Homo sapiens: one gene and its partners. The protein of the gene in region 2 interacts with the protein of the main gene of each other region in a pairwise test. Each region holds a gene or a part of one and is shown on either strand. Other genes may lie near its edges.

What was found.
Region 1: the proteins of DZIP3 (region 2) and HNRNPUL1 interact in binary tests that used the Homo sapiens proteins (3 or more experiments, as listed by UniProt).
Region 3: the proteins of DZIP3 (region 2) and ZNF24 interact in binary tests that used the Homo sapiens proteins (3 or more experiments, as listed by UniProt).

The regions. Positions count from the first base shown.
Region 1 is NC_000019.10:41,260,137-41,267,392, forward strand, and holds the start of HNRNPUL1 (heterogeneous nuclear ribonucleoprotein U-like protein 1), read left to right. Parts: upstream 1-4,235; 5' UTR 4,236-4,367; coding exon 4,368-4,662; intron 4,663-4,728; exon of another isoform or gene 4,729-4,746; intron 4,747-4,944; exon of another isoform or gene 4,945-5,179; coding exon of another isoform or gene 5,180-5,207; intron 5,208-7,256.
Region 2 is NC_000003.12:108,690,721-108,695,382, forward strand, and holds the end of DZIP3 (E3 ubiquitin-protein ligase DZIP3), read left to right. Parts: intron 1-66; coding exon 67-177; 3' UTR 178-183; intron 184-2,639; 3' UTR 2,640-4,120; downstream 4,121-4,662. UniProt on the Homo sapiens protein: E3 Ubiquitin ligase proteins mediate ubiquitination and subsequent proteasomal degradation of target proteins.
Region 3 is NC_000018.10:35,334,400-35,341,442, forward strand, and holds part of ZNF24 (zinc finger protein 24), read right to left. Parts: intron 6,335-7,043; 5' UTR 6,252-6,334; coding exon 5,832-6,251; intron 5,578-5,831; coding exon 5,430-5,577; intron 4,675-5,429; coding exon of another isoform or gene 4,661-4,674; exon of another isoform or gene 3,372-4,660; coding exon 2,833-3,371; 3' UTR 1-2,832. UniProt on the Homo sapiens protein: Transcription factor required for myelination of differentiated oligodendrocytes. Required for the conversion of oligodendrocytes from the premyelinating to the myelinating state.

The DNA of each region.
Region 1 (7,256 bases), on a different chromosome or scaffold from region 2:
AAGCCCTCCCAGGTGTTAACATTCCAAGACTCTAGAGTCCAAGGTTTAAAGAGTCTAGATTCAAAGGTTCTAGGTTTCAAAGATGCTGTGAGTCTTTGGTTCTAAGGACCTGAAATTCCAAAGTCTCTAATTCTATTAAAGTGCTAAGGTTCTAAGGCCTACTTTTTTTTTTTTTTTTTTTTTTTTTTTTTTTGCGATAGAGTCTCACTGTGTCACCCAGGCTGGAGTGCAGTGGTGCAATCTCGCCTCACTGCAACCTTCACCTACCGAGTTCAAGTGATTTTCCTGCCTTGGCCTCCCAAGTAGCTGGGATTACAGGTGTGTGCCACCACACCCGGCTAATTTTTATATTTTTAGTAGAGACAGGGTTTCACCATGTTGGCCAGGCTGGTCTAAAACTCCTGACCTCAAGTGATCTGCCCACCTCAGCCTCCCAAAGTGCTGAGATTACAGGCATGAGCCACTGCACTCAACCTTAAGACCTACTGTTCTAAAGCTCTGACATTATGTGGTTTTAGATTTTCTGGTTCTAACATTTTTGATAAAGCCTCAAGGTTTTAGGTTCTAAAGTTCTAAGATTCTGATTTTAGGAGCTAAGGCTCTATGAGTCTAGATGTTTATTCTTCTAGAGTTCAGAGTCCTTAAAATGTAAGATTATAGATTCTAAAGATTCTATAGTTCTAGACATGGAGGTTCTAAGGCCTAGGATTCTAAAATGTGATGTTCTAAGGCTCTGAGAGTCTAGATTCTCTGGCTGTAAGGCTCTAGATCATAAGGCTTCAAAATGTTATCTTCTCAAGTTCTAAGATTCTAATGATGATCAATTATAGTTTCTGAGGCTTTATGATAATAGATTCTCTTGTATAAGATCCTAGATCCTAAGGGTCGAAAGCTCTAGAATCTGCAATTCAAAAGTTCCAAGAGTCTAAAGATGGAGTTTCTAAGGTCCGGTGTTCTAAGATGTGATATTCTAAGACTTACTCTAAGATCTTAGATTCTCTGTGTCTAAGATTCTAGATCAGATGCTCCAAGATTCTAGATGATTAAATAAGATTCTAACGGTCTGTTCTGTTTCAAGGCACTCTAGATTCCATTGGTCCAAGATTCCGGATCCTAAGCATCTAAGTTATAAGACTCTCACACTCAGTTGTGACTAACTAGACACCAAAGTTCTAATAATTTCTAATGTTGGACACCTTTAGGTTCTTTGCTGCATTCTGCCTCTCTAGGACCATGGTTAAGAGTCCAAGAATCCACATTTCTAAAATCTTATAGTTCTAGGCACTGTAGTTCTAAGACTCAAATGTTCTAAGTTTCTAAGATTCTAAAGGTCCACAGGTCTAGACTATTAGGTGCAATTTCAAGGTTCTAACCCTATACTGTAGTATTCTTTGGGGTGCCCCTCTCCTTCTTAGCTATCATTGCTTCCTCCTCCCCAACTGTGGGGGTGTGCCCCCTTCAAGCCTGTGCAATGCATTAGGGATGCCTCCTTTCCCGCAGGGGATGGACGATCTCCCACCTTTCGGGCCATGTTGCCCCCGTGAGCCAATCCCTCACCTTCTGAGTACAGAGTGTGGACTCTGGTGCCTCCAGAGGGGCTCAGGTCACATAAAACTTTGTATATCAACGAGCTTCTGTCTCCTCTTGTCTCCTTTTAGCTGTGATGTGGCCCCATTCCCTGGCAATTCAGTTCCCCCATCAGAAAAAAGAAGGGCTTGGTAGGGTCTTGGAATTCTGTCCTCACTAGAGAGGGTAGAAATGAACACACAGATAGACAAAAAGACATACAAGCAAAGAGATGCAGGTTCTCAGAAACCCCCAGTGAGGAACTGGCATACAGATCCAGGATCACAGACACACACACACACACACACACCTGTTCCGCCGCAAACTAACAGACACATGAATTAATGGACACACCCAGGAGGACCTGGTCACAAATACAGAGACTGAAACTCAGACGCATAGAGTAACACAGACACACAGAATTACACAGACACAAGCATATTTACAAACATGCTCAGGCAGATACCCGCCACGAATAGGAAGAGACACAGACCTAGAGTCAAGTGACACAAATACTCAAGAGACATGTAGAGTACAACAGGTACTCACAACCCCGAACGTTCAGACTGACATAGAAACACAGGCACAGAACACCTCCGATCATCACGGACCCACAAAGGGCCTCCAGCGAAGACCAGCCCACCGTGTCTGGCACGCACTCGCGAGCGGGCGTTCGCGGGTGTGGCCGGCAGCAAATGGAGAAACCCTTGGCAGCGCCCGGACGCCCTCCAGTGGCGGCTCCTGAGAACCGGGGACAGTTCAATCCGGGCCACAAACTTTTTTAGAACAAATCATTGTGGGAAGCTGGGAGGAGAGAGAGAGAGAGGAAGTCGGACGTGGGCGAGGGGCGGGGTGTCTGGACTGGAACCTCTGGGCCCACGTGAGTGTCTGTCCCGCTGCTGAGTGGGTGCTGTGTGTTTGGGTTGCTGTAGTGTTCGCTTGTAGTGCAACTATCCTGTGTTATCTTTATTATTCGATGCCGCCTGCCTCTGCGGACCGTAGTGGGCACATCTACACTGCAGCGGGGTGCCTTACCCAAAGCAGATCGGAATTGGGGCCGGGCGCGGTGGCTCACGCCTGTAATCCCAGCACTTTGGGAGGCCGAGGCGGGCGGATCACTTGAGGTCAGGAGTTCGAGACCAGCCTGGCCAACATGGTGAAACCCCGTCTCTACTAAAAATACAAAAATTAGTCGGGCATGGTGGCGGGGACCTGTAATCCCAGCTACTCGGAAGGCTGAGGCAGGAGAATCGCTTGAACACGGGAGGCGGAGGTTGCGGTGAGCTGAGATAGAGGCCCTGCACTCCAGCCAGGGTAACAAGAGCGAGACTCCGTCTCAAAAAAAAAAAAAAAAAAAAAAGAACAACAAAAAAAAGAACTGGATGCGTCTGATCTGACGCACGCCTGTTTGTTTACGACTGCGGGGTGTGCCTTTGTCTGAGTAGAGATAGTGTGTGGCTTTTGCGGGCTTAACGTGTGGCTCAGGAGGCAGTGGGAGTCTGCATCATGTATCCCGATTGCGTCTTACTCGAGTTTTGTTTTGAGTTAGAGGCGACAGGTGGTGCAGCGTTAGACACTGGGAAGCTCTGTGGCTTTTGTATTCCTGAGCGCGAAGGTTAATGACGGATCCGTGGGGTTGAGCTTGTCGGTACAGACGCCAGACAGCCCGATTTACGGGAACAGCCGATTAGAGGATTCGGGAGAGCGGTCGGTGAACTTCTGGATGTCTTTCGGGAGGGGAAGGCTCTATGGTCGCGTGCAGAGCGCCCGTTCCACGTCAGGTACCCGACCATAGAGCAAGGCGGCCGCGGACTACCCAAGGGAAGGGGAGGCCGTGTCCTTTACAACTTGCCTCCCGTTGTTAGTCTAGTTTCTATAGCCAAACCTTCGGGACTCTCTCAACTCAAAATTTTGCTTTTCCTAAAGGCAACTGGGTTCCTTCCAGATTACGAACTGTGTATCCACTTAATCTCTATTTCGTATACCTCCTCCTACAGCGAAATTTGTGAGGCAGTCCTCTGAAGCACGGCCAATCTGGTGAACTTTTCCTAAAATGAGCCATCGCTACCAGCTTTAGTGAGCTAAGACAATAACTGCGATTGGTGGGCAGATTGTTTTGAAACCGCCCTAACGGCAAGGGGCGGGCTCCTGGTGAATTCATCTCTTTCCGGTTTCTTAAAGGCAACAGGAAGGAGGGGTTTCTGCCGACCCTCCATTTGATTGGTTCTAGTGGTTTTACCCGCTCGGACTCCTCAAGGGGCGGGAGATGTACACCAATCGGAATGTGTGTTACAGAGACACTTAGTTTGATGAAAGGACTGCGCAGGAAAGGCCGTGGGACACTCATTCTGAGATCTTACCGTTGATTGGACCAAATTGTTACTCCCTTATTTTCATTGGACCTTACGGCAGCCGGCGCGCGAGAGTTACCCAATCAGCAAGCGCTCCGCCTCCTGCCTTTTCCCGCCCTCCGCTCCGGCCTCGGCTTCGACGTAGGCCAACGCTTCCTCCCCAGTAGCTCCTAGGCCTTCTCGTGGCCGTTGTTTTGAAAACGGCGCTCTGATTGGCTAGGTTTCCGGGCCCGCGCCCGTTGCCCCACGCACTGACCAATTGGCACTCATGTAACATCGGACGAGGCACGAGTGAGGGGGGAGGCGGTGGCGGCGGCCATTTTGAGCCGCTGCCGCCATTGGAGTGGGCCCCCCCCCTTTCCCCCTTCGCCTCCTGACAGGAAAGGTTTAAGGGGGACAGAGCCCTGGGAGGCCGGGCCGGGCTCGGGGGCCACCCCGGGGGCCCGGGCCATGGATGTGCGCCGTCTGAAGGTGAACGAACTTCGCGAGGAGCTGCAGCGCCGCGGCCTGGACACTCGAGGCCTCAAGGCCGAGCTTGCTGAGCGGCTGCAGGCGGCGTTGGAGGCCGAGGAGCCTGACGACGAGCGGGAGCTCGACGCCGACGACGAACCGGGGCGACCCGGGCACATCAACGAGGAGGTCGAGACCGAGGGGGGCTCCGAGCTGGAGGGGACCGCGCAGCCACCGCCGCCCGGGCTGCAGCCGCACGCGGAGCCCGGCGGCTACTCGGGGCCGGACGGACATTGTGAGAGTGCGCGGGGCGGGGGCCGGGGAGCCCGGAGCCTGGGCCGAGGAAAGGGCTGTGGGACGCGGGAGTCCAGCGCCTGAGGTCGGGGAGACGACCTGAGGATCGGGGGATCCCGCTACCCGCCGCCGAAAAGGATCTGGGGACCAGGGCCCCAGCACGACCGGAGGGTGGATCCTGACACTCAGTGCAGGGGGGACACTGGGGGAGGGGCCTCTGGGTTTCGGAGGTGAGGGACGGGGGTGGCGGGGAGGATTCCGTACCGTAGGGATCGGAGACCGGAAACTGCTTTCTGGAGCCGAAGAGAGTCGGAAGAACAAGAGGTTTTCCGTTTGGGTTGGGGAGGGTCTCGAAAATGGGGATCCTAGGGTACGGAGCTCCGTGGGCTTGGCGGTCGTGCTAGCCCAGCGTGTGGGCTGGGGGGTGGGGAGCCGTGTTTCCAGGGTGGGGAAGGAATGTCCAGGTGTGCGGGGCTGCGAGAGTTCTGAGGAAGGAGGATCCTGGAATATGCCGCTGGATGCGATCCTGGGCGTTCTCCTATTTGGGTACGGGGGTGGGTGGGAGAGGTGGAGGCGCTGGTGTCTGTGGCTGGGGAGGGTCCTAATGGACTCAGTGCTTTGGAGTTTGGCTAGTGAGCATTTAGGGGCTGCGGGAGATTGAACTAGGGGGCACCCCCATCTCTCTTCCGGGGCTGGAAGGCCACCCTTGAAGCAGGCACAGCCTGGACATTAGGTGCTGGGAGATCTGGGGACTTTCTGGTTGGCTTCTAGAAGAGGTATAGGGAGCCCTGGTGTCCAGAGGCTGGCGGGGGAGAGGATGCTTTCCTGGACAAAGGATCTGGGGGTCTAGAGCTAAGAAAACTGAGGGCAAATAACTCTTGAGGCTGCTGCTGACTGGTCTGGAGCTAACTGTGGGGTTTTTGGAGAACAGAGGGTAGCTGGGGGTGGGATGGGGGCAGATGAGTTGGTAACATTCCAAGTGGATGAAATATGTGGCGGGAGACAGAGGATCCTGTGTCCAGCACAGGAGTACGTATCTGGCTTAGCGAATATGGGGAGGGGGGAGGCCGTAGGGAGCAAAGAGAAAGAAACCTGTTGACTTCACTGGAGGCCTCAGAGTGGAGTGTGGGGAATGTTTCTGGACCTGAGCGTCTCCAGGAGAAATCTCGACGGTTCCCAGAAGCAGTTATTTGTGTACCCAGGGAGTGGGGGCCCTCGGGGAGCAGCACGGAACTCTTCATCAGCCAGGAGCTGTGACTCTGGGAATGGGTTCGGGTAGACCTGCGGTTGTCTGAGGAGAGGAAAACCTGATATGGGACGGCGTGAATCTTCAGTTAGAAAAAAAGCAGCTTTCGGGCCGAGTGCAGTGGCTCACGCCTGTTATTCCAGCACTTTGGGAGGCCGAGGCGGGCGGATCACGAGGTCAGGAGTTCAAGACCAGTCTGGCCAGCATAGTGAAACCCTGTCTCTACTAAAAATACAAATATTAACCGGATCTGGTGGTGTGCGCCTGTAGTCCCAGCTACTCGGGAGGCTGAGGCAGGAGAATCGCTTGAACTTGGGAGGGGGAGGTTGCAGTCAGCCGAGATTACGCCATTGCACTCCAGCCTGGGCAACAAAAGTGAAACTCCGTCTCAAAAAAGAAAAAAGCAGCTTTCTTTCTCTTTTTTTTAAATACAGATGGGGGGTCTCGCTATGTTGCCCAGGGTGGTCTTGAACTCCTGGGTTCAGGTGATCTCACCTCGGCCTCCTGAAGTGCTGGGATTACAGGCGTGAATCACTGCACCAGGCCTCAGGGCAGCTTTCTAGTAGGACTGGGAAATGGGGGGACTGGAAAGGTTAAGGAGTAAGTAGAAGGGATTCTGGCGTAAGAGTTTGTGGAGTTTTTCTGAAAAGAGGGCACCCTGGGACTTGGGGCTAAGGGGATAAGGAGAGAAATGAGGTAACAGAAGAGACAGGATTTGGGGTTGGAATTGGATACTTGTTCATAAGAGAATTTCCCGGAGGGAGGAGTGTGGATTTGGGGTAGGCAGTGGCCTAGAGATTATCGAGGACCCAGGTGCTGGAAAGAGGACTTCCCATTGCAGAGACTTGTGAAGAAAGGAGTGGGCCTGTGTGTGTGTCTAGAGCAGGAGGGATCGTGGCAGGAATGCCTAGCAAGAAAGGGTAGTGGGTTAGTAGTGACCTGGTGGTCTGGGCAGAGAGTCATCTCTGAGAGGAAAGCGAATTAGGTGCTTTGGAGCGTAGACTCTAGACTAAGACAGACTTCGTTTCAAATCTGGCTTAAAGATATTGGCAAGTCACTTCACCTCTGTGGGCCTGGTTTCCTTAATGTGTAAAATGGGGTTAATCAACAAATAGTGTGTTCACAGCCCCTCCAACCCCTGAGGGGTGTTATGAATGAGATCACATGTGAAGGGCTTATCACTGGGCCTGCCTTTTATGAGAAGAGGGATGTTTTAGAGAATGGAGAAGGACCCTAGAATTATAGCTTCTCCAGGAGGGGCTGCCTCTGTGAACACAGGAGAGAGATGCTGGGGAAAAGAGGCTTTGTGGGAAGAGGAGCATTGTGCTTGGAGCCTGGAAGCAGCAGAA
Region 2 (4,662 bases):
ATAGAGTGACAACTGCCTCTGCTAGGCTACATCTGAGAGACTGACATAAATCTTTTTGCTCCTTAGTGCATTAGACCATGGTTGATGCAACAGGGGACATGTCCAACGTGCAGACTCCACGTTTTGCTACCAGAAGAATTCCCTGGTCACCCCAGCCGGCAGTTGCCCAAGATCTGATACAAGGTCGGGGTGTCTATGCAAAGGAAGCTCAGTTTTCTTTTATTATGAGCTGCTTGTTTGAGTGGTGTAAAACTATGTGCTCTTCAATATAGTGCTAAAGAAGCCAGCTAATTTTATCAAAGCAGCAGCCAAAGAAGTCAGGACAAATCTTCAGGACTTGTGAAATGAACTGAAAGAGCTTGAAGCAGATGGAATTTTAATAGTTACACTATATATGCTCTTAGTAGGTTTTTTTCTTGTAGTGGAAACATAACTGTTAGCATATTTCTTAGGATGTTTTTTCTTGTCTTTTTAAATTCTTATTTCACTCATCCTTTACTCTCCCCTCAAGTATTCTACACTTTAATTTCCTGAAATAAATTTAAGGAAAAGGGAAATAGTAAAGAAGTAGGAATGGGTGCAGCACACCAGCATGGCACATGAATACACATGTAACTAACCTGCACATTGTGCACATGTACCCTAAAACTTAAAGTATAATAATAATAAAAGAAAAAAAAAAGAAAGTAAAAAAAAAAAAAGAAGTGGATATTCACGGAGAGCTATGAGGGGATAAAAGGGTATGATCTAATGGTAAGAAACTGGAAGAAACATAGCAAGTCATTTGTTCAGATTCTTCTCTGTGTCCCTGTGTCTCCAGAGATAAGGATGTCCTTTTCCTCCAGGTATACAGTGGGTACCTCTAGAATGAGGGTCTTATGACCTGCTTCCAGGGAAGGTCAGAGAATCCTTCCTAGGTTTTATGACTTGTTTCTGGGAAGAAGTGCAGGAGGAAAGTGAGTGAGACTTCCCTGCTTCTGCTGTTTTCTCAAACATCAAGATGCCATATTTTGGAGTAGCATGTCTTAAATCTCATCACCCGTCTCAGGTGCAGTTTCATGGCCATGAAGAAGACAGAAAGACCACTCATACCTGCATAAGTATTATCACAAACTTTCTTATCTTCTGTTTGTTCTCCTGAAAACCCATTTGTCTTTCCTAAACGAACCAATTTGTCCTTCCCATAGATGTCTTTCTCCCCCATTCCTTTCCCCTACTAAGTTAGGTATATAAGCCCCAAATTCTAACCACACTTTTCAGTTACTCTTCACGGAACACTCCCACATGTGCGAACATTGTCCGCATAAATAAGCTCTTTTCTCTTACTAATGTCTTTTTTTCAGTTTAATTTGCAGGCTCCTATTGAAATAACAAAAGTTGGTAGAGGAAAAAGTTTTTTCTCCCCTACAAAGGCCAAGAACATTTTGGCTTTATATTTATATTTATATTATAATGTGAATTGATTATAATTATAATGTGAATTGATAGAAATATATATATTTTTTTTCTGCCCCTGCTTGGCACATGACAGAACATGGGCATAGACAGACTGGCTATTGGTAATCCAGTCCTGGGAGATGATCAGGAGGCAGTACTCAATCCTACTTTCTTCTCTACAGCTTCCCATGGGCTAAAGAATTTACATGTCTGCCCACAGCAAATGTACTCAGGCTTCTACACTAACATAAGCCCACGGAAATGAAACAGAAAGGGACAGTTCATATGTTTCTGAATAGATCCAGTTGAATAGTCTCATTCAATTTGAGACTGTTGAACAACTGTTGTTGTTCTACATACATTTAAAGTCAGGGCACATGCGTCACTGCTTATTTTTCTTACTTGACATATTCCCTGCATTTCCATGTCTGCCTGTCCTTTAGATAAACAGTAAAAGTTTCCCATGTGCCAGTATTTCTCAAATGGTTTACATCAGAATCACCTGGAGGACTTTTAAGCTAGATTGTTTGGTCCCATCCCAGGGATTCTGAATCAACAGGTTTGCGATGGGTCCAGATAGTTTACTTTTCCAAGTTTACTAACAAGTTTGCCAAGTTCCCCCAGTTTATTACCATTAGACCATACCTTTTTGTCCAATCATTTAAAACAAATTTTTATATAATAAGTTTTATTTGTATGTAATAAATTTTATTATATAAAAATAAGTTTTAATATATATTATATAAAAAGTTTTAATAAATACCTAATATATTATTTAATATGATAAAACTTATATTAAATGAAATTTTATGCTGTTCTCTTGTCAATCTGTCTTTTGTTATCTTGCTGGTGTGCCTGTCATGTGAGGGACTGCAATCTGATATGCCTGTTTTCCACAGTCAAAGCAATTACAAGAGAATTGTTACAATTACCCAGTTATGTCAAGAGATTTTTTTTTAATTCACTAAGGTAGAGATAAGGAGAATGTATTAAAATAGGATATTTTAATTATAAATGCATGACTGGGGAGGGGGTATTGTTTTTGAATAAAATATGAGGTTATTTGCCATGACAAAAAAAAAAAGAAGTAGGAAAATCCCATGGAAATTTATGTTCCTTCTAACTTTTAAAACTACCTAAAAAATATAATTGATTTAAATTATATCTCAATATTCCCCATTCTTTTATATCCCCTTAAATAGGTACCCATGAAGAGATTATGAACTACTTGAAGGTGGAGACTGTACGGTGGTGTGTTGGAGCTGGCTTGTAATGTCTTATGAGTGACAATCGTTAGTTTGAGGAATTTTGTGAGACAGTTGTCAAATTGTTGCTAGCTTGAAATCTGCGGCAATTGGAGTATTTACACCATAGAAATGCTATAAGTGAAGACCTACCTTTCCCTTAAGAGCTAGTTGTTAAACCTTTACCAGCATACCACTGGACCTTGTCTAAAATTTCTTTGTGTTCCCAGTGTCTTGCCCAGTAGATACAAGATAAATATTGCCAGAATCAGATATCAGGAAGTAGTAAGAAAAGGAGTTAATATGCAAACTAAATCACTCGCTCAATTGAATAATTGAGATCTTCTGTTCATTTGTTCCTTGGACCTTAATCATTTGCATTTTGGAGAAAATTTTTTCTGCTTTAAAAGTCTGTAATTTCAGTTTTTGTGTCGGGGAGAGGGAAAAACTATTTGTCTGTAGTTGCTTTTTGTGACAAAGTGAATACCCACTGGGCTAAGTTTCATATCTAAAGCTTGTCACTAAGAATTTTCATTTTTAGGGGTCAAAAACCTATTTTGAAAATAGTGTTGTGTGAATGCTGTAAGTGTTGTACATGTCTCTGGTTTCAGAATTAAAAGAATTCAGAGTTACCTTGTGAGATAAATGTTCTTTGCTTCATATTCACAGTTTCACCTCCATTTAAATTTATGGGGAAGAATAAATGTTTCCTGACTCAGAAACAATTTTGCCTCCATATTTCAGTGCAAATATATTTTGAAGTTACTTTTAAATATTTATTTAAAACCTCTGTTTCTGTAACTGTATGTTAAACGTATTCTTCTGTAATGAGAATAGACTGGAACATGTGAGGGAAAAATATTTAAAAAAAGATGGCAGTCATCTAGACATGTAAAATGCCAAGAATGTCTTAGAATTGCACAATTTAGAATTTATAGAGCCTTTAATCACCTTGTCTAGCACCTTGTATTAGTCCATTTTCATGCTGCTGATAAAGACATACCTGAGATTGGGCAATTTACAAAAGAAAGAGGTTTAACGGACTTACAGTTCCACATGACTAAGGAGGCCTCACAATCATGGTGGAAGGCAAAGAGGAGCAAGTCACATCTTACATGGATGGCAGCAGACAAGGAGAGAGAGCTTGTGCAGGGAAACTCCCATTTTTAAAACCATCAGATCTCATGAGGCTTACTATCACGAGAACAGCATGGGAAAGACCTGCCCCCGTGATTAAATTATTTCCCACCAGGCCCCTCCCACAACATGGAATAATGGGAGATACAAGATATTTGGGTGGAGACACAGAGCCAAACCATATCACACCTTAAGGTCATGGTCATATAGCTAGTTATCTTGTAAAACCAATGTTTCTTAGTTCATACTTACAACTGCAATTTCACTTTCATTTAGAAAAGAATAAATGTTTCTTAATTGAACAACTATTTTATCTGTGTATTTCATTATAAGCATATTCTGAAACTACTTGAAATCTTTACTTCAAATGTATCTTTCTGTTTAATTGGGCTTAAACTTTTTCTACTGTTTTGAGAAACGTTAGGAAAATGGGAAGGAAAATATCCAAGAAGACAGTTATATAGACTTATAAAATGCCACGATTGTTTTAAAATAACAGAATGCCAAAGTTCATTGGGTCCTTAGTGACATATAATACATTTTCTTATTTTACAGGTATGTTGTACCCAATGTCACATGGCCAGATAGTGGCTAGGCCAGTCTCAGTACTTGAGGGTCTCTGATGCCTCATCACATGCTTTCTCCACAAACTCATGTTGTAATAGGGTATTGGTGTTGACTTGCCATGCTTAGCTCCAAGGATGGGGCCAGAGAACTTAATACAATAGTTGGTATATAGGGAGAATGTAATAGGACAGTGCTCCAGGAAGTTATATTTAATTCTTTAGGTGCTGAAGGTAATGGGATTATAGTTTTTGATGTATACTTTAACAGTAAAGACAAT
Region 3 (7,043 bases), on a different chromosome or scaffold from region 2:
TACGGTGTCTAAGCCAATGCCTAGCATGCAGATTATTTCAGTACATGTAACCCTCCCTTCAATTTACATGAATATGAGACATATTGCTAAAGATCAAGTACCAACTGGGTATGACTACAGAGAGCTTAACCTCCAAGAAAGCCAGAAGAAAAAACCAGCAAATGCTCAGTGGCTACTGGGCAGATATCAGCAATCTGCATGACCTAAAATGACTGCTCATTTGCTAACCAAACAGATACTCTGGCGATGCCACTGCTTGGCACTGCCATATCACCACTTCATCAGAAGCTAGGCACTCCCCCAAATTTCTATGATTATCTGTGTGGGTAATGAATGTGTGGATGGAATTTAAAAATCACTACATAGTATTTAAAATCAATTTGTCTAGTGGGGACTAAGCCTAACCAGAGATAGAAAGTACACATCTCATCATTTCCTCTTCTTGTGTGCCACCATCCAGTTTTTTTTGGTCCAGTCCCTTTTTCCCACAGAGCTTTGCCTTAGCCTCAGAATCCTTTCTGAACAATGCAGATATTAGAGCTGCCAAGACAAAAACAGTATTTGCCAACCCTCATACTACTTTTTCTACACTCACATTACCAAATATCTTTGGCATTTATGACAAATCTACCACAGGGAAGCTTCCTTGTATATAGGAACCGCATACGATCTTAAAAAGCATGACATAATAGCCATTGAGAGGTTGCTCCCTTCTTACCTACTCTGATACAAGAATTCTGTCATTCCAGCCGTCTTCCAAATATGCCACCTGAAAACCTACTTGGAAAGAAGCCAGTTATAAATAAATAAATCACATCATTTATCTTAGAGCAGAGGAGTTTACAGCTTTATTGGACACTGACTTGTTTCCCCTCAGCCACAAAGAGAAAAAGACCCAAACAAAAGTCCCTACATTTTCTTGTATAACTTAAAATACATTATATCATTACTACATATTTATACTTCAATAAATCTTAATCTATAAAGCACATTTTTTATAATTGTTATCAGAAAACCTATAAACAAGCTCCATTCTGCCTCACTTTTCCACCAGCTGGCCTTGCATTTATTACTATGCTTTTTAATAGGCTCATGCAAAATCTCACCTTCCATTTTTAAACTTGATCCAAGCACCAGATATAACCAAAATCTCTGAACTAGGAAATATTTGTATTCACATGGGTCATTTTCCACACAATGATGCCCATTATAAAAAAGCCTCCTCTCATATTCTATATTTTAACTTCCAGAGTTTTCCACTAAACAGTAGAACCACAGTACTTGGAATTCTCAGCCAAGGAGTATATAATCCTACTACTACAATGTATTACTTTAATACATTTTAAAAAATGTGTTAAGACTGAAAATTAAAAAAAAATTCAATTGTGATAGGTTAATAAACTAGTTAATTGTCTAGTTGTTTATTTTTTAAATAGAACAGTCCATTCAACTTAATATGTAGGTACAACCTCAATGCTATTAGAGATTGATTAGTTCTTTAAAAAGATTCACAAACTTCCAAATTGTGGTAAGAGTATCGTGGACTCACCTCTGAACACTGGAGAGCCAGCTAGCTCTTTTGAGCCGAGTCCTCCTCCCCCTCCAAATACAACACCCTGGTAAAAAAAACTACAGTTCTGGGAACCTCACAGGTGACCTCCCCTGAGGAATGCTCAGACAAGGGGAAGAGGCTAACTCACATAAAACAGCAAACCCCTATGATTTACAGTGGAAGAAATACCTACCTACTTATGGTAGGATTACAGTACCTAGCACAGTGCCTTGTCGGTAGAAAATGTTTAATAATAAATGCATGGCTGCTTTTTTAGCCTGACGTTCAACCCTTTTGTACCAAAGGAATAAAAAATAGGTAACCTGATACTTGCCCACCTGTCAGGGAATTTTCTGTCCTTAACAAAGATGAAGGCAAAATAATGATGAACTCTATCATCTTTTTCTAAAAGCCATGACAGACCATTACCCTTATGTTTACATTTGCCTTCAACACTGCCATCCGCTACAAATTTTTCCCTAGTGTTATAATTTCTACCTTCATTATTTTACAACTGTTTATTATTTAGACTGTATGCTTTTTAATAATATATGGGAAAACATTATTTTCATTAGTAAGATGACTCCAAATTATAGAGAGGATGAGTAGCTTTTGAATTTTCCTGCAGGCAAAATATAAATTCTTGATACATTTCAATTCTTAGATCAAAGTATTTGCATATCTTCCCCAATCAAGGTGTTCCATTCACTTTTTGATGTTTTATCACCATCACTTCTTATCTGAGATCTTATGGTTCATTTTGAGGCTCTTAGCCATCCTTTATCCTCTTATTTTCTCAAATGCATATTCAAATTAGGTAAAAGGAAATAAGGGTAAATTTTTAAAAGATGGTTTAAAATGGTTTTCAGACTTTGTAATTCCTGTTGCCTTTTAATATATAAGGGAATGTATCCATATAAAGAACATTTCAATGATCAATGCAGAAATAATGTATTTGTCTTAAAAAAGAAACTTTCAAGAAAGGGACAATGAATCAGGTAGTTCATTATTTGGAGAAGTAATACAGACTATAAACATCACATGGAAAATTTAGGCATTAAGACCTGAATTAAGTTTAAAATTTCAGTTTCTAGGCAGGTATGACACCATTTCTTTCAAGATAAATATCATAATGGTGAGTGAAGATTTTTACATTTCCCAGTGGATTTTCTGACAGTCAATAGGGAAAAAACTATTCTGCATCATTTCATATTTTAAATTTTGTCTTCATTTCTGAAGAAAAAGACCTGAGTGCTGATTCTTTTTTTTTTTTCAATTTCTTAAACTTTCACAACATTCAGAAGTTTTTCTGCATTGTGTCTTCTCTGATGTCTAAAAAGATTTGAGCTTTGACTATACGATTTCCCACACTGAACGCATTCATAAGGTTTCTCCCCAGTATGGATTCTCTGATGATTAATAAGCCCCGAATTCTGGCTAAAGGCTTTCCCACATTCAAGACATTTGTAAGGTTTTTCTCCAGTGTGGACTCTCTGGTGTTGCACAAGAATGGAACTTCGGCTGAATGCTTTCCCACACTCAACACATCCATAAGGTTTCTCCCCACTGTGAATTCTTTGATGAAGAATAAGGGCTGAGCCCTGACTGAAGTGTTTTCCACATTCATCACATATATGTTGTTTCTTTCGAGAGGGATTTCTCTTTCTTTCAAACCTGCCCTTGGGGAAACAGGTTTCTCCATATTTAAAAATTTGAGGAACACCCATATTGAGAGTGCCAGGAACTTCATGGGATTCTAATGCTGAAGGAAGCTCCTGCTTTGGAGCTAGTGCTCCATTTTCAGTCCTACCATCATCATCTGAAATAAACAGAAAATGTAAATATCATTCATTATCTATTAAGGGAAAAGAAACCTAAAAAAAATTTTTTTTTTAATGAACTAAAATAGCTAGCACACATCTATAAACCACTCTGACACTGGTGTTAAGGCCTATTCTCAAAAAAGAAAAAATGAAATTACTCTGAATAACAGTATAACATCATGATATAAGGGATATCTGAATAAAACATAGGCAAGTGGTTTACAAATGGTAGTCAGAAAACAAAGGTCAGAAAGATGGTAGATTCTAAGATGGTTAGGGAGATAGTCAAAATGATGTGGCTAGGTATGGATGAAACTTTGTAAGAATAAAAATAAAATAAAATTGGCCACTAGGAAATCATTATAATGTTCTTTTACTTTGAGAAAGGGAGAAATTACATCAAAATACAAAGATGTAAATTAGAAAAACATGTCAGAAAGTGGCTATTTCTGAAATGAACAAGCCAAGTCAGGTCACAGCCAATGTTAGCCTAAAAGCAGAACACAGGAGTCTTGACAAGAAGGGGCTGAAGATAAGCTGGGGGCCTCCTGTGTTAACCAAAGACATGACATAAAAATTCAGTATGCCCCTAATAAATGAAAGTTTTCCAATAAAAGCAGCTTCTCCCATGTGGTATTTGTCATGGTACTTAGAAAAATCGTTATTTCTAAGCCTCAGTGAAACGTGTCCAATGAAAGAAAAGCCTGAATTACCAACATGGGTTAGCATCACTCACACGCAGGCAGAGATAACAGCAAGTGTCATTTAAGACTTTTCTAAAACTTCATGCCTTAAGGAGTAAAGATCCAGTTCATATAGGGTTAGCAACTGCCTTCAGCGAAGAGGAAAACAGTAAATAATTAACAAAAAGATCAAGTCAGGAGATAAGGCTAAGAGAGAGAGACTGAAAGGTTAGAGGAGGATAGTGAGGCTTGGAGACTTGAAAAACAGAGGAGCGTGAAGATTAAGTGGAGACAAACGGCACACAGGAAACAGAAATTCCCAAGTGTGGAAGAGACTAGACAGCTGAAATAAGGAACGCAGGTGAAAAGTCACTCTAAAATTCAGATGATGAGAAGTTGAAAATATCAGCCCCATATATCAAGAATGATACTTCTCAAACTTTATTGCACAGAAGAATGTCCCATGAAACATGTAAAACTGCAGATTTTCAGCAGACTTCAGCCCCACCCCAAAAGTTGACTGGCTGGCACTGTCCCCTCAGATGTGAAGAAAACCTGCTCAGACCTCATTCAGTGGCATACCAGCACCATCTCCAACTACTTCAAGGAATGATTACTAAAGCAGAGTCAAACAAAATTTCATTTTAGTTCACATAAACATGAGAAAGCAATCTAGCAGTTTTAGGAATATACTGGGCCATATCAAAGGATACACATAAGTATATGGTGTTAATGGCTAATATATTGGGAAAGACTGGTCTCGTGAATTAATACAACTTTGAGCTTTTAAAAAAGATTTTTCTGCATTTAAAGCATGTTATAGCTAAGGAGGCTTTTTTTGCATAAATACTTAGAAAAAGGAAAAAAATTACTCCAAATATTTCTACAAAAGAAGCTTCTTAGAAGAAAATGACTCTAGGTAGACGTTGAAGGAAATCAGAAATAAATATTTAGAAAGATTTCAGTGATATACAACAAAGAGATTAGAAGAGGTTTTCAGGTAAGCTTACTGTACCAATGGAATTAGGCAGGAGATTGAAAGTAAAAGGATGTAAAACAGATGACAAGTAATACTGAATGCAAAATAGAGGGACTTGGTCCATGGGTGGGTGCTGGCTCAAAGTAAGGCAAATGCTAGCCTGACATGGGCAACTCTTTTTAGGAAGGAGACTGAAAGGGAAGAAAAGGCTGAAGATGTTAATGTCTAGGAATAAAAGGTCTGAGGCCAGCAAAATCAACTTAATCAGAAAAAAACTGAGATATTAGATTAAGAGTGATATGATCCCCCCACCAGTGAGAACAAGCAAAGTTCTGAACAAAAGGCCTATACTCTCTTTCACCCTCTAGCCCACACAGAGTTCTGGTCCTCACCACAGTGCCTTAGGGAATGGAGCTCCCAGGATGCCCACTTGAGCTGGTTCTCCACAGCATCAAGCTCAGAACTTGGTAATCCCTGAGCTTCTTCTTGAGATACCATGTCTTCTACTAGTACTTCCCGTTTTCGTCGACGGAGAGAAACCTGGAAACAGAAAGATTTGATTCAGAGAAGGAACTGTAATGAGAATCAGAACTAAAAACACGTAAGAGAAACCCCATGAAACAAATACTGCAGAAGCCTAGATGGCAAAGCGGCACAGATAACAAGGAGTGGTAGGGGAATGGGGGAAAAGGCATAAACATAATTCTAACTTAGTTGAGTGGAATTAATTCAGCAGCTTTGCCTACTACCTATGCCAGTGCTTCTGACACAGGAAATGACACAAGCAGGCTCACCGGTTGTCCAGGGTCATCAAGTTCACTCTCCAAATCCTCCAGCACTGTCACTGCCTCCTCTCCATTCTCTGGATGATGATCTCGAACCCAAGTCTGTAGCTCTTTGGGTAGGATGGCAACAAACTGCTCCAGCACTACCAGCTCCAAGATTTGTTCTTTTGTGTGCGTCTCTGGCCTGAGCCACAGACGGCAAAGTTCTCGGAGCTGGCTCACAGCCTCACGGGGCCCAGGTGAATCCTGGTATCCAAACTGCCTGAATCGCTGTCGGAAAATCTCTGGGTCTGGGAGATGGTTCCAGGGGATACTTGATCCCTCTTCGCCATCAGGATCCTCCTCCAACTTCACTCTCAGAATTTTTTCCTCTTCATCTGGAGTTGGGATGATAAGTATTGAATCTTCTTCCACTGACTGTGCAGACATTCTGATTTATAATATTTCAAGAAAAGACAACTGAGGCAGAATATAAGCCTCAGGGCAATACCCCGTTTTCTTCACAGGCACTCCTGAGGCATAAGAAATAAAAGATATATAAATAAGCAAAAATATCCTAAGAATTTGAACTTATACTGGTAAAAGTAAAAGATACTTGTTCTTTGAGTTAAAAATTCCAATCAATAACCTACACCAGGAATTGGCAAACTACAGCTTCACGGCCAAATCTAGCCTGCCACCCATTTCTGTACAACACTTGCACCAACAATAATTTTCACATTTTTAAATGGCTGTGGTCTTCATCACAGTGCCTTACGGAGCGGAGATCCCTAAAATCAAATGAATACCTAATGATATTTAGGGAATGGAGCTCCCCAAAATCAAATGAATACCTCATGACACGTGAAAATGATATGAAATTAACATGACTGTGTCCATAAATAATTGTACTTACTCATACTTCACGCTACAATAGCAGAGTTGAGTAGTTTCAACAGACTAGATGGCCTAAAAAAAACCCAACACAGTCATGCACTACAAAATGATGTTTGGGTCAATGAAGGACCACCTAGATGACAGTGCTCCCATAAGATTATAATGGAGCTGAAAAATTCAAGATTCACCTAGTGACACTGTAGCTGTTGTAAGGTCAATACATTACTCACATGTTTGTGGTGATGCTGGTGTAAACAAACCTGCTGTGTTGCCAGTTTAACACATACAGTTATGTATGGTACATAAAACTTGATAACAATAATAAACGACTATGTTACTGGTTTA